Regions from separate parts of the Homo sapiens genome. Here region 2 is linked to region 1. Evidence: fine-mapped expression QTL. Tissue or cell type: lymphoblastoid cells. Region 1 holds a variant in brackets; the other region holds the start of a gene. All regions are shown on one strand. Distances are from middle to middle.

Region 1 (5,554 bases):
TACTGCACTTCAGCCTGGGCAACAGAGCAAGACTCCATCTCAGAGAAAAAAAAAAAAAAAAAAGAAGGGACTTTGAGGACCTGAGCTAGCTAGCCCTCCATCAGCCTCTCCAGCATACAGTTGGCACCATTCTTAGTGGTGGTGCATCGTAGGACGTTTAGCAGCTTTTACCCACTAGATGTCAGTAGCATCCCACCCTCAACTCTGTGGCGACCACCAAAAATGTCTCCAGGCAGTGACAAAAGTTCCTCTGAGGCCAGAATCAGTCTCAGTGGAGAATCCCTGGTTTGGTCCCTATCTCTACACTGCAGAGTGGATTTGGGATCACTAAGCCACTTTGGCATCAATGATGTCCTCATTGGACCAAGCTCAGCCAATCAGAGCATTAATTGCTTCCCCTGATGTTAGTGATTGGTGGAGGAATATTACATGGCCCAAGCTCAGCCTATCAGAGTCAGCCCTGAGACTTTAGCCTGGGCTACTGGGACAGATAGATTTTCCTGCAGCGTCTAGGGTATTGGTAGGAGAGGGGCCCAGAACACATGGGGGACTTTTTTTTTTGGCACTTTCCAGGCTGTTTATACGCGTTCTCTGGCTCTGTACTATTGCTTTGGAAGATATCACACTGCATGATGTCCCACATGTGAAAGCAAGGCCAAGGACTTTTTTTTTTTTTTTGGCTGGAAACATTTTGAAAGGGATTTTGTAATTATTCTTTTAGTTCTAGCTAGCGATGAATGGATGATTGGTTGGATGTGCTTGGGAATTCTTGCTGAATGAGGTCACCTAGCCTCAAAAACAATCTAAATGGGAGGTGAATGAATTCTCAATTTTACGCTTAGTGAGGCTGACATAATGTTACCTTTTTTTTCCTTTTGTAATTGTTCTTGTATTTTAGAATGAGGATATCTTATTCCCTAGGTCTTTAATATTTCTGTTGGCCTGTGCAAAGACTCAAGGCTCCAGGCATCGTGTCAAAAGTGCTTACAGATAGAGGCATCTTTCTCAGAGAGAAGCCCATTCAGGGAACAGCAGATGAACAGGTGAAGTGACAAGCATTTCTGTTTCTTTTTTCTTTTATTATTATTATTATTATCAACAACATCATTTTTGAGACAGAGTCTCACTCTGTCACCCAGGCTGTGCAATGGCACAATCTCGGCTCACTGCAACCTCCGCCCCCTGGGTTCAAGCGATCCTCCTGCCTTCAGCCTCCTGAGTAGCTGGGTCTACAGGCATGAACCACCATGCCTGGCTAATTTCTTTCTTTTCTTTCTTTTTTTTTTTTTTTTAGATGGCATCTCACTCTGTCGCCCAGGCTGGAGTGCAGTGGCATGATCTTGGCTCAGTGCAACCTCTGCCTCCCAGGTTCAAACAATTCTCCTGCCTCAGCCTCTGGAGTAGCTGGGATTACAGGGGTATGCCACAATGTTTGGCTAATTTTTGTATACTTAGTAGAGATGGAGTTTCACCATGTTGCCCAGGCTGGTCTCAAACTCCACCTCAAGTGATCCACTCGCCTCGGCCTCCCAAAGTGCTGGGATTACAGGTGTGAGCAACCACACCCGGCTGAGAGGCATTTCTGATAACCTAATTTGAGTGCCTGGATCCAGCCACACCTGAAGCCAACTTCCCCTGACAATTTCAGATGCACAAGTCATCCATCCCTTCTCCTTTTTTTAAAAAAAAAACTACTTCTGGAGCATTTCATTAAGTCAAACAACAAAAGTTATGCAGTGTTCCGTGCACTTCACATATATAAATTCCCACAGTGAGCCTTAGGCTCACATCTCATTAAAAATATTTTGAGGGCCTGGCGTGGTGGCTCAGGGCCGGGCGTGGTGGCTCACGCCTGTAATCCCAGCACTTTGGGAGGCCGAGGTTGGTGGATCACCTGAGGTCAGGAGATCGTAGACCATCCTGGCTAACACGGTGAAACCCCGTCTCTACTAAAAATACAAAAAATTAGCTGGGCGTGGTGGTGGGCACCTGTAGTCCCAGCTACTCAGGAGGCTGAGGAAGAAGAGTGGCATGAACCCAGGAGGCGGAGCTTGCAGTGAGCCGAGATCACACCACTGCACTCCAGCCTGGGCGACAGAGCGAGACTCCGCATCAAAAAAAATTTTTTTAATATATCTTTTTAAACATTTATTTATTTATTTATTTATTTATTTATTGAGATGAAGTTTCAGTCTGTCACCCAGGCTGGAGTGCAGTTGCACGATCTTGGCTCTCTGAAACCTCCACCTCTCAGGTTCAAGTGATTCTCCCACCTCAGTCTCCCGAGTAGCTGGGATTACAGGCAGCTGCCACCAGGCCCAGCTAATTTTTTTGAATTTTTAATGGTGGGGTGGGGGGGCGGTTTCAGCATATTGGCCAGGCTGGTCTTGAACTCCTACCCTCAAGTGATTCACCCACTTTGGCCTCCCAAAGTGCTGGGATTATAGGCATGAGCCACCGCGCCCGGCCTAAATATCTTTTTAAATTTCTATTTTCTGTGGTGGGACTATGAAAAAAAAACAGTAATAGCAAATCCTGTTTTTCATTCAGTAGGATATTTTTTCTTCCTGTAAAACAGATTGTTTACAGGGCTGGCAGGGACTTATATATGATTCAGCATTGAGTCCGCAGCATCATCAACACATTTGTTTCAAGATTAAAACCAAATATAAGGCGTTAGGAGTCTCTTGAAAGACACTTAATGATTTCATTCCTTTACCAGCCCGGATGGATGAAAGAAAGTTGATTGAAGAAAAGTTATTACAAATCAGGAAGGAAGGACAGTGTGATGCGTTCCAGCATCTGGGGTATC[C/CT]TTTTTTTTTTTTTTCTCAAGCCATTTTTGAGCTGGAGATTGATATTTGTAACCAAAACAGCTTTCACTCATTCCAACCTGTAAAATGCTATCTTTTTTTTTTTTTTTTTTTTTTTTTTTGAGACGGGGTTTTGCCCTTGTTGCCCAGGCTGGAGTGCAGTGGCACGATCTTGGCTCACTGCAACCTCTGCCCCCTGGTTCAAGTGATTCCCCTGCCTCAGCCTCCTGAGTGGCTGATATTATAGGCGCCCACCACCATGCCCGGCTAATTTTTTTGTATTTTTAGTAGAGATGGGGTTTCACCATGTTGGCCAGGCTGGTATCAAACTCCTGACCTCAGGTGATCCACCAGCCTCGGCCCCTCAAAGTGCTGGGATTACAGGCGTGAGCCACTGCGCCTGGCCAAAATGCTATCTTTAGACACCACGCAGGCCATGAAAATTTTTGTTCAAACAAATTATAAAACTGATGAATCAGAAGTGTTCTGATGACAGCTAGCATTTGTGGAGTCCCTGCTGGAGTCAGATGCCATCCACGGGCTTTTTTTTTTTTTTTTTTTTAATGAGATAGGGTCTCGCTGTATCACCCAGGCTGGAGTGCAGTGCAGTGGGGTGATCATGGCTCACTGCAGCCTCAACCTTCGGGCTCAAGTGATCCTCCCACCTTAGCCTCCCGAGGAGCTGGGACTACAGGTGTGTACCACCACACCAAGTCTATATATAGATATATAATATATAAATATAAATATATTATATAAATATATATTAATATAAACATATAAATATAAATATATATTTATATATTTAATAAATATATATTATATATATATATAGTTTTTTTTTTTTTTGTAGAGATGGGGTTTTGTTATGTTGCCCAGGCTGGTCTCAAACTCCTGGCCTCAAGCAATCCTCCTACCTCAGTCTCCCATATTGCTGGGATTACAGATGTGAGCTACTATGCCTGGTCCTATGGGCTTTCATGAGGATTAAATCTCAGAATCTCCTCAAGTGATTCTGTGAGGTAATGACAGTTATTCCCATTGTACTGATGAGGAAATCAAGGCACAGAGAGACTTTGCCCAAGGCACCAAAGCAAAGAAGTGTCAGAGCCTGGAGTTGAACTCAAGGAGGCTGTCTGCAGAGTTGATCCCAGTTAGGGGACCATTGCTGCTCTCTACCCAGCCCAGGGTCCCATGCCCCACGTTCTATTCCAGCACACACCTGCTAAATAGACGGAGATCCCACAGCAGAAAAGGCCAAGGGCCACATGTCTGAGGAGGCGGCAGTCGTAGAGAAACCAGTCAGACCTGGAATGAAGGGGAGCAGGAAGATAAAGGGTTCAGGAAGTGGAGCTGGTGGGGGGAGGTCAGTGAGGACAGGGAGGGAGAGCCGCTTAAATGAGACAAGGACCCAGCTTTCAGGGACCCAAAATCTATGTGAGTACCTAACCATCATCCATCTACTTGCCCACCCATTTACATCCATTTACTTATCCACTCTCCATCTATCCATCAATTCATCCATCAGCTCATGTATCCATCAGCCCATCCATCCATCTATCCACCCATTTATCCATTCATCCATTCATCCATTTATCCACCCATTCACCCATTTGTCCACTCATCCATCCATCCACCCATCCATCCATATGCCCATTCATCCATCCACCCACTTACCCATCCATCCATCCATCCATTTATCCATTCATCCATTCATCCACCCATTCATCCATCTGTCCACTTATCCATCCACCCATCCATCCATCCATACTTCCACTCATCCATCCATCCACTTATCCATCCATCCATTCACTTATCCATCCATCAAACCAGTCATCCATCCACTCATTCATTCATCCATCCACTTATCAATTCATTCATCCATCCACTTATCCATCCATCGGCCCCACCCATTCATCCATCCATACAATCATTTAGATATCCACCATCCACTATCTGATATCTATCCATTTATCTATGCTCCATCCATCCACACATCCATTTTTCCAAGTCAGTGTCCACCATCCATTTACCATTCATATTCATTGATTATTTGACCAGCACTCATATACAGCCTTCCATCCATTTAACCATGTGCTATTCATCCATCCATCCATTCATTTAAACACCCTCTGCTATCCTATCTATCCATCCCTCACCCACCCATCCACTGGTCATCCATCTTCCATTCACTATCCATCCACCCCTCATCCATCCATCCATCCATCTATCCATCCATCCATTCATCCTTCCTTACTTCGATCCATCCACCATCCATTCTCTTTCCCCTATAACCCATCTATATGCATGAGTCCACTCAAACACTCAACACTCAGGATGCAGCTACTATGTGCAGATACTTGCTACACACCTGGCTTCCATTATTTTACAGACTACAAGCTTCTTTGAGAGATGAGGAAACTGAGTTTCACATGCTGTTATTGATGATACAAACCGCGACCCCAAGAGGTGAGACTGATTGAGGAGGAAGTGGAGGCTATAAGAGCTTCCATCCTCACTCAGCTCCCACCAGTATAATGAAAGTGGACGCCTTCCCCATCTTCCTGTCGCCTTCCCTCCTGTCCCCTTTTCAGCACAGTGGCTAGAGGTGGTCATTCAAAACCTAAATCAGATCACCTTCCTCCTTACTCACAACCCTCCTTAGCAGAAGAAATCCCAAAGTCCTATCTCCTCTCTATCCCATCTCTCTGTTTCCTTTCCTTCTCAGCACTCATTACCATCTG
Region 2 (5,554 bases), 380 kb after region 1:
GTGACAGAGCAAGACTGTCTCAAAAGAAAAAAAAAAGGACTTATGAAAATTTAGAGGGTTGTTTACCCTCTACCCAATCTGCAGTTTACAATTGACACCAGTGGTTCTCAAACCAGGGTGATTTTGTTTCCAGGGGATACTTGTCTGGGGACAGTTTTAGATGTCACAACTTGGATGGGGTGTGAGGCTATTCATGGCATTAGGGGGCAGAAGACAGAGATGTTATCTAACACCCTACAATATACAGGACAGCCCCACTACCATATACATCCCCAAATGTCAGCATCAGCTTTTTTTTTTTGAGATGGAGTCTCGCTCTGTTGCCAAGCTGGAGTGCAGTGGCGTGATCTTGGCTCACTGCAACCTCCACCTCCCGGGTTCAAGTGATTCTCCTGCCTCAGCCTCCTGAGTAGCTGAGACTACAGGTGTGCGCCACAACGCCCGGCTAATTTTTGTATTTTTAGTAGAGACGAGGTTTCGCCACGTTGGCCAGGCTGGTCTCACCAGCCTGAGAGTAGCTAGTCACAGCTACTCAGGAGGCTGAGGTGGGCAGATTGCTTGAGTCTGGGAGGCAGAGGTTGCAATGAGCCGAGATCACGCCACTGCACTCCAGCCTGGGTGATAGAGTGAGACCCTGTCTCAAAATATATATATATAATAATAATAATATTAATATTTTTCCCTTTTTTGAGACAAGGGTCTCTGTCTCAGGCTGAGTCTCATATTGCCCAGGTTGGTCTCAAACTCCTGGCCTCAAGTGATCTTCCCTCCTAGCCTCCTGAGTAGCAGGGATTACAGGCATGAGCCACCACATCCAGCAAGGTAAGTATTTTAATGCAATACTTTTAAAATAAAATTTAAAATATTTGTAAAAAGGCCAGGCACAGCGGCTCACGCTTGTAATCCCAACACTTTGGGAGGCTGAGGCGGGCAGATCACCTGAGGTCAGGAGTTCAAGACCAGCCTGGCCCGGGCACAGTGGCTCATGCCTGTAATCCCAGCCCTTTGGGAGGCCGAGGCAGGTGGATCACGAGATCAGGAGATTGAGACCATCCTTGCTAACATGGTGAAACCCCATCTCTACTAAAAATACAAAAAATTTAGCTGGGCTTGGTGGCAGGCGCCTGCAGTCCCAGCTACTCAGGAGGCTGAGGCAGGAGAATGGCGTGAAGCCGGGAGACGGAGCTTGCAGTGAGCCGAGATCACACCACTGCACTCCAGCCTGGGGGACAGAGCGAGACTCAATGTCAAAACAAAACAAAACAAAACAAAACAAGACCAGACTGGCCAACATGGTGAAACCTGTTGTTTCACCTGTTCACCTGTCTCTACTAAAAATACAAAAAAAAAAAAAAATCAGCTGTGCATGGTAGTGGGTGACCTGGGGAGTGGCCTGTAATCCCAGCTACTTGGAAGGCTGAGGCAGGAGAATTGCTTGAACTCAGGAGGCGGAGGTTGCAGTGAGCTGAGATCGTGCCACTGCACTTCAGCCCGGGTGACAGAGCGAGACTCCATCTCAAACAAACAAACAAAATACAAAAATTAGCCAGGTGTGGTGGTGCGTGCCCGCAGTCCCAGCTACTCTGGAGGCTGAGGCAGGAAAATTGCTGGAACCCGGGAGGCAGAGGTTGCAGTGAGACGAGATCACGTCACAGCACTCTGGTTTGGGTGACAGAGCGAGGCTATGTCTCAAAATAAATAAATAAAAATAAAATAATAAAATAAAGTAACATAATTGTGAAAAGCAATACTTTTCAAAAGCAATACTTTTAAATACTTTTAAAGCTGGACACAGTGACTCACATCGCTAATCCCAACACTTTGGAAGGTCAAGGTGGGAGGATTACTTGAGCTCAGGAGTTTGAGACCAGCCTGGGAAACAGAGTGAGACTCCCTCTCTACGAAAAAGAAAAAAAAATTAGCTGGGTGTGGTGGCAGCACCTGTATCCCAGCCACTCCAGAGGCTGAGGCAGGAGGATGGTTTGAGCCCAGGAGGTTGAGCCTGCAGTGAGCCGAGATCTCACCACTGCACTCCAGCCTGGGCGTCAGAGTGAGACCCTGTCTCAAAAAACAAACAAACAAAGCAAAATTAAGGCAAAAATTCATGAAGATCAAAATATTGAAATTTTAAGACAGGATCTCACCATGTACTTGCAAGAGCCTACCTCTCCTGCCTCACTCTGTTTCTGGCCCCTCAGGGGGACTCATGCTCTGAGGACTTTCTTTTTTTTTTTTTTTTGAGACGGAGTTTCACTCTGTCGCCCAGGCTGGAGTGCAATGGCATGATATCGGCCCACTGCAACCTCTGCCTTCCGGGTTCAAGCGATTCTCCTGCCTTGGCCTCCCAAGTAGCTGGGATTACAGATGTGCATCATTATCCCCGGCTAATTTTTTTAAAAATTATTTTTAGTAGAGATGGGGTTTCACCATTTTGGCCAGGCTGGTCTCGAACTCCTGACCTCTGGGGATCCACCCGCCTCAGCCTCCCAAAGTGCTGGGATTGCAGGCGTGAGCCACCACGCCTGGCTAACGGCTCTGGGGACTTTCACACGCGCGTTCACACACACTCCAGTGCGGACCCACGATCTGTGCACGCAGCCGGCAGGTGAGCCCTGGGCACATGCATGCAAACCTGCCCACCTCCCTGCACGTGTGCATCTGCGCCTACGTGCACCTGCCCCACCTCGGCTTCCCAGAGCGCTGTCCCTGCCCGTCCCCACTCACGGTCGCCTCCGGTCGCAGGCCTCCTGGCTTCGGTGGACCAGCGGGGGCCCCCGCACACGCGCACTAGCGCGCGTACGAAGTGGTGGCCGCACAACTTCTCACGCATCTCTGGGGTGGGCGCGGGGCCCAACGCGAACACCAGGGCAGGGCCCAGCAGCACCAGCGCCCAGGCGGGCAGACGGGGGTCCATGGTGGTGGGTGGCGCCGGGGCCAAGCGGGGACCCCCTTTATAGGCGCCTGGGCCGTCCCAGCTGGGGGCCTTGGAGAAGGGACAGAACATTCTTCAGGACCGCCCAGGAAAAAGGTCAAGGGTGGGGTTAGTGCCAGAGCCTTTCTCCCAGGGCCAGGGCCTTGGATGTACTTCTCCCAGAGGGAGCACTGGGCAACGAGTCTTTCTTTTTTATTTTTTTCTTCTTTTTTTTTGAGATGGAGTCTCACTCTGTCACCCAGGTTGGAGTGCAGTGACTTGATCTCGGCTCACTGCAACTTCTGACACCCGGGTTCAAGCGATTCTCCTGCCTCAGCCTCCTGAGTAGCTGGGATTACAGGTGCGCACCACTATGCCTGGCTAATTTTTTTTTTTTTATTTTTTATTTTTAGTAGAGACTGGGGTTCGCCATGTTGGCCAGGCTGGTCTCCAACTCCTGACCTCAAGCGATCCATCTGCCTCGGCCTCCCAAAATGCTGGGATTACAGGCATGAGCTGTGCCTGGACTATTATTATTTTTATTATTATTATTGAGACAAAGTCTTGCTCTGTCTTCCAGGCTGGAGTGCAGTGATGCGATCTCGGCTCACTGCAACCTCCACCTCCTGGGTTCAAGTGATTCTCCCACCTCAGCCTCCCAAGTAGCTGGGATTACAGGTGTAAGCCACCACGCCCAGCCACCTATTTTTATTTTTTATTTTTGAGATGAGTTCTTGCTCTGTTACCCTGGCTGGAGTGCAGTGGCACGATATGGGCTCACTGCCACCTCCCTATCCCTGACTCAAGCAATTCTCCCACCTCAGCCTCCTGAGTAGCTGGGACTACAGGCCCACGCCACCACACCCGGCTAATTTTTTGTATTTTTTTTGTAGAGATGGGGTTTTGCCATGTTGCCCAGGCTGGTCTCAAACTCCTGGACTCAAGTCATCTTCCCGCCTCAGCCTCCCAAAGTCCTGGGATCACAGGCGAGAGCGACCACACCAGGGTATTTATTCATTTTTGACATAGGATCTCTCTGGGTTGGCCTGTAATGGCAGGATCATAGCTCACTGTAACCTCATTCCCCTGGGCTCAAGCGATCCTTCAGCCTCTGCCTCCTGAGTAGCTGGGACTACAGGCCTGCAATACAATGCCCAGCTAATTTTTAATTTTTTAATTTTTATTTTTATCTTTTTAGACAGAGTCTTACTCTGTCACCCAGGCTGGAGTACAGTGGTGCGATCTCGACTCACTGCAACCTTTGCTTCCTGGGTTCAAGCGATTCTCCTGCCTCAGCCTCCTGAGTAGCTGGGATTACAGGTGCCCACCACCAAGCCTGGCTAATTTTTGTATTTTTTAGCAGAGACGGGGTTTCACCATGTTGGCCAGGCTGATCTCAAACTCCTGACCTCAAGTGATCCACCCGCCTCGGCCTCCCAAAGTGCTGGGATTACAGGCGTGCACCAACGCGCCCGGCCATTTTTAATTTTTTAATTGTAGAGGCAGGGGTCTTGCTATGTTGCCCAGGCTCATCTAGAACTCAAGTGGTTCTCCCTACTCGGCCTTCCAAAATGCTGGGATTACAGGTGTGAGGCACCACACACGGCCAAGTCTTCGCTATTGTCTTAACCAGTTTAAAGAGATGAAATAGATCAACTGAAAAGTAATAATCCTGCCTTTTCTGGGGGGCAGGGGGGAAGACAGCGGGCATCTTCCAAGACCAGAAATGTTCAGAATTTTGTTGTTTCTATTACTGTACAAATGAGAAAACTGAGGCACACAGGCCAGGTGCAGTGGCTCATGCCTGTAATGCAAGCACTTTGGGAAGATGGGGCAGGTGGATCACTTGAGGTCAAGAGTTCGAGACCAGCCTGCCCAATATGGTGAAACTCTGTCTCTACTAAAAATACAAAAATTAGCCAGATGTGGTGGTGCATGCCTATAATCCCAGCTACTCGGGAGGCTGAGGCAGGAGAATCACTTGAACCCAGGAGGTGGAGATTGCAGTGAGCCGAGATGGTGCCGCTGCACACCAGCCTGGGGACAGAGACTCCGTCCCCTCACCAGACAAAAAGAAAGAAAAGAAAAGAAAAAAAGAAAACTGAGGCACAGAGAAAGGACCCCAAACTTGCCCAAGGTCACAGGAGGCTGAGCAGAGCCCAGGTCTTCTCAAGGCGCCTGACACGCAGGGCTGGGGGTGTCCCATCCGAAGCTCTGTCTCCCCAACACGGTTGTCCCCTCTGGGTGAGCAGGGGCTGGTGGACCCAGAATAGAGCAGGATTTATTTGTTCAGTGGATGCTTGGCCCCCGCTTCATGCCTAGGGGGTCTTATAGCTTTGTTTTTCCAAGGAGGGAATCTGAGGTTGAGAGAGGGAAGGATGCTTGACCCTAGGCAGGAGAGAACCTGGGCTGGAACTCGAGTCTTGCTTGACCCCAGAGCAGCTCCCTCCCTATTTCTACCAAATTAGGGGGCCCTCTGGGGCTAAGAGAGCAGGGACAGGGATCTCTCTCTCTCTCTCTCTCTGAGTCTCTCTCGGCCTTCATCTCTCAGTTTCCTTCTGTATGTCTGTCTCTGTCCGCATTTTTCTTTTTTTTGAAACGGAGTCGCTCTGTCGCCCAGGCTGGAGTGCAATGGCATGATCT

The links. PIP is the estimated chance that this variant, and not a neighbour inherited with it, causes the effect.
Region 2: INSL3 starts here. The variant in region 1 is fine-mapped to the expression of INSL3 in lymphoblastoid cells (CAP, PIP 0.95).

The regions. Positions count from the first base shown.
Region 1 is chr19:17,441,167-17,446,720 of GRCh38, forward strand. TMEM221 (transmembrane protein 221) reads right to left here. Exons shown (of 3, transcript NM_001190844.2): 2 at 4,033-4,118. Among named protein-coding and RNA genes, the nearest start is that of TMEM221, 4.7 kb to the right of the region's middle. RefSeq lists a silencer at 154-203. The variant C/CT (reference allele first, on the strand shown) is at 2,813.
Region 2 is chr19:17,818,593-17,824,146 of GRCh38, forward strand. INSL3 (insulin like 3) reads right to left here and starts at 2,927. Exons shown (of 2, transcript NM_005543.4): 1 at 2,725-2,927. The coding sequence starts at 2,914.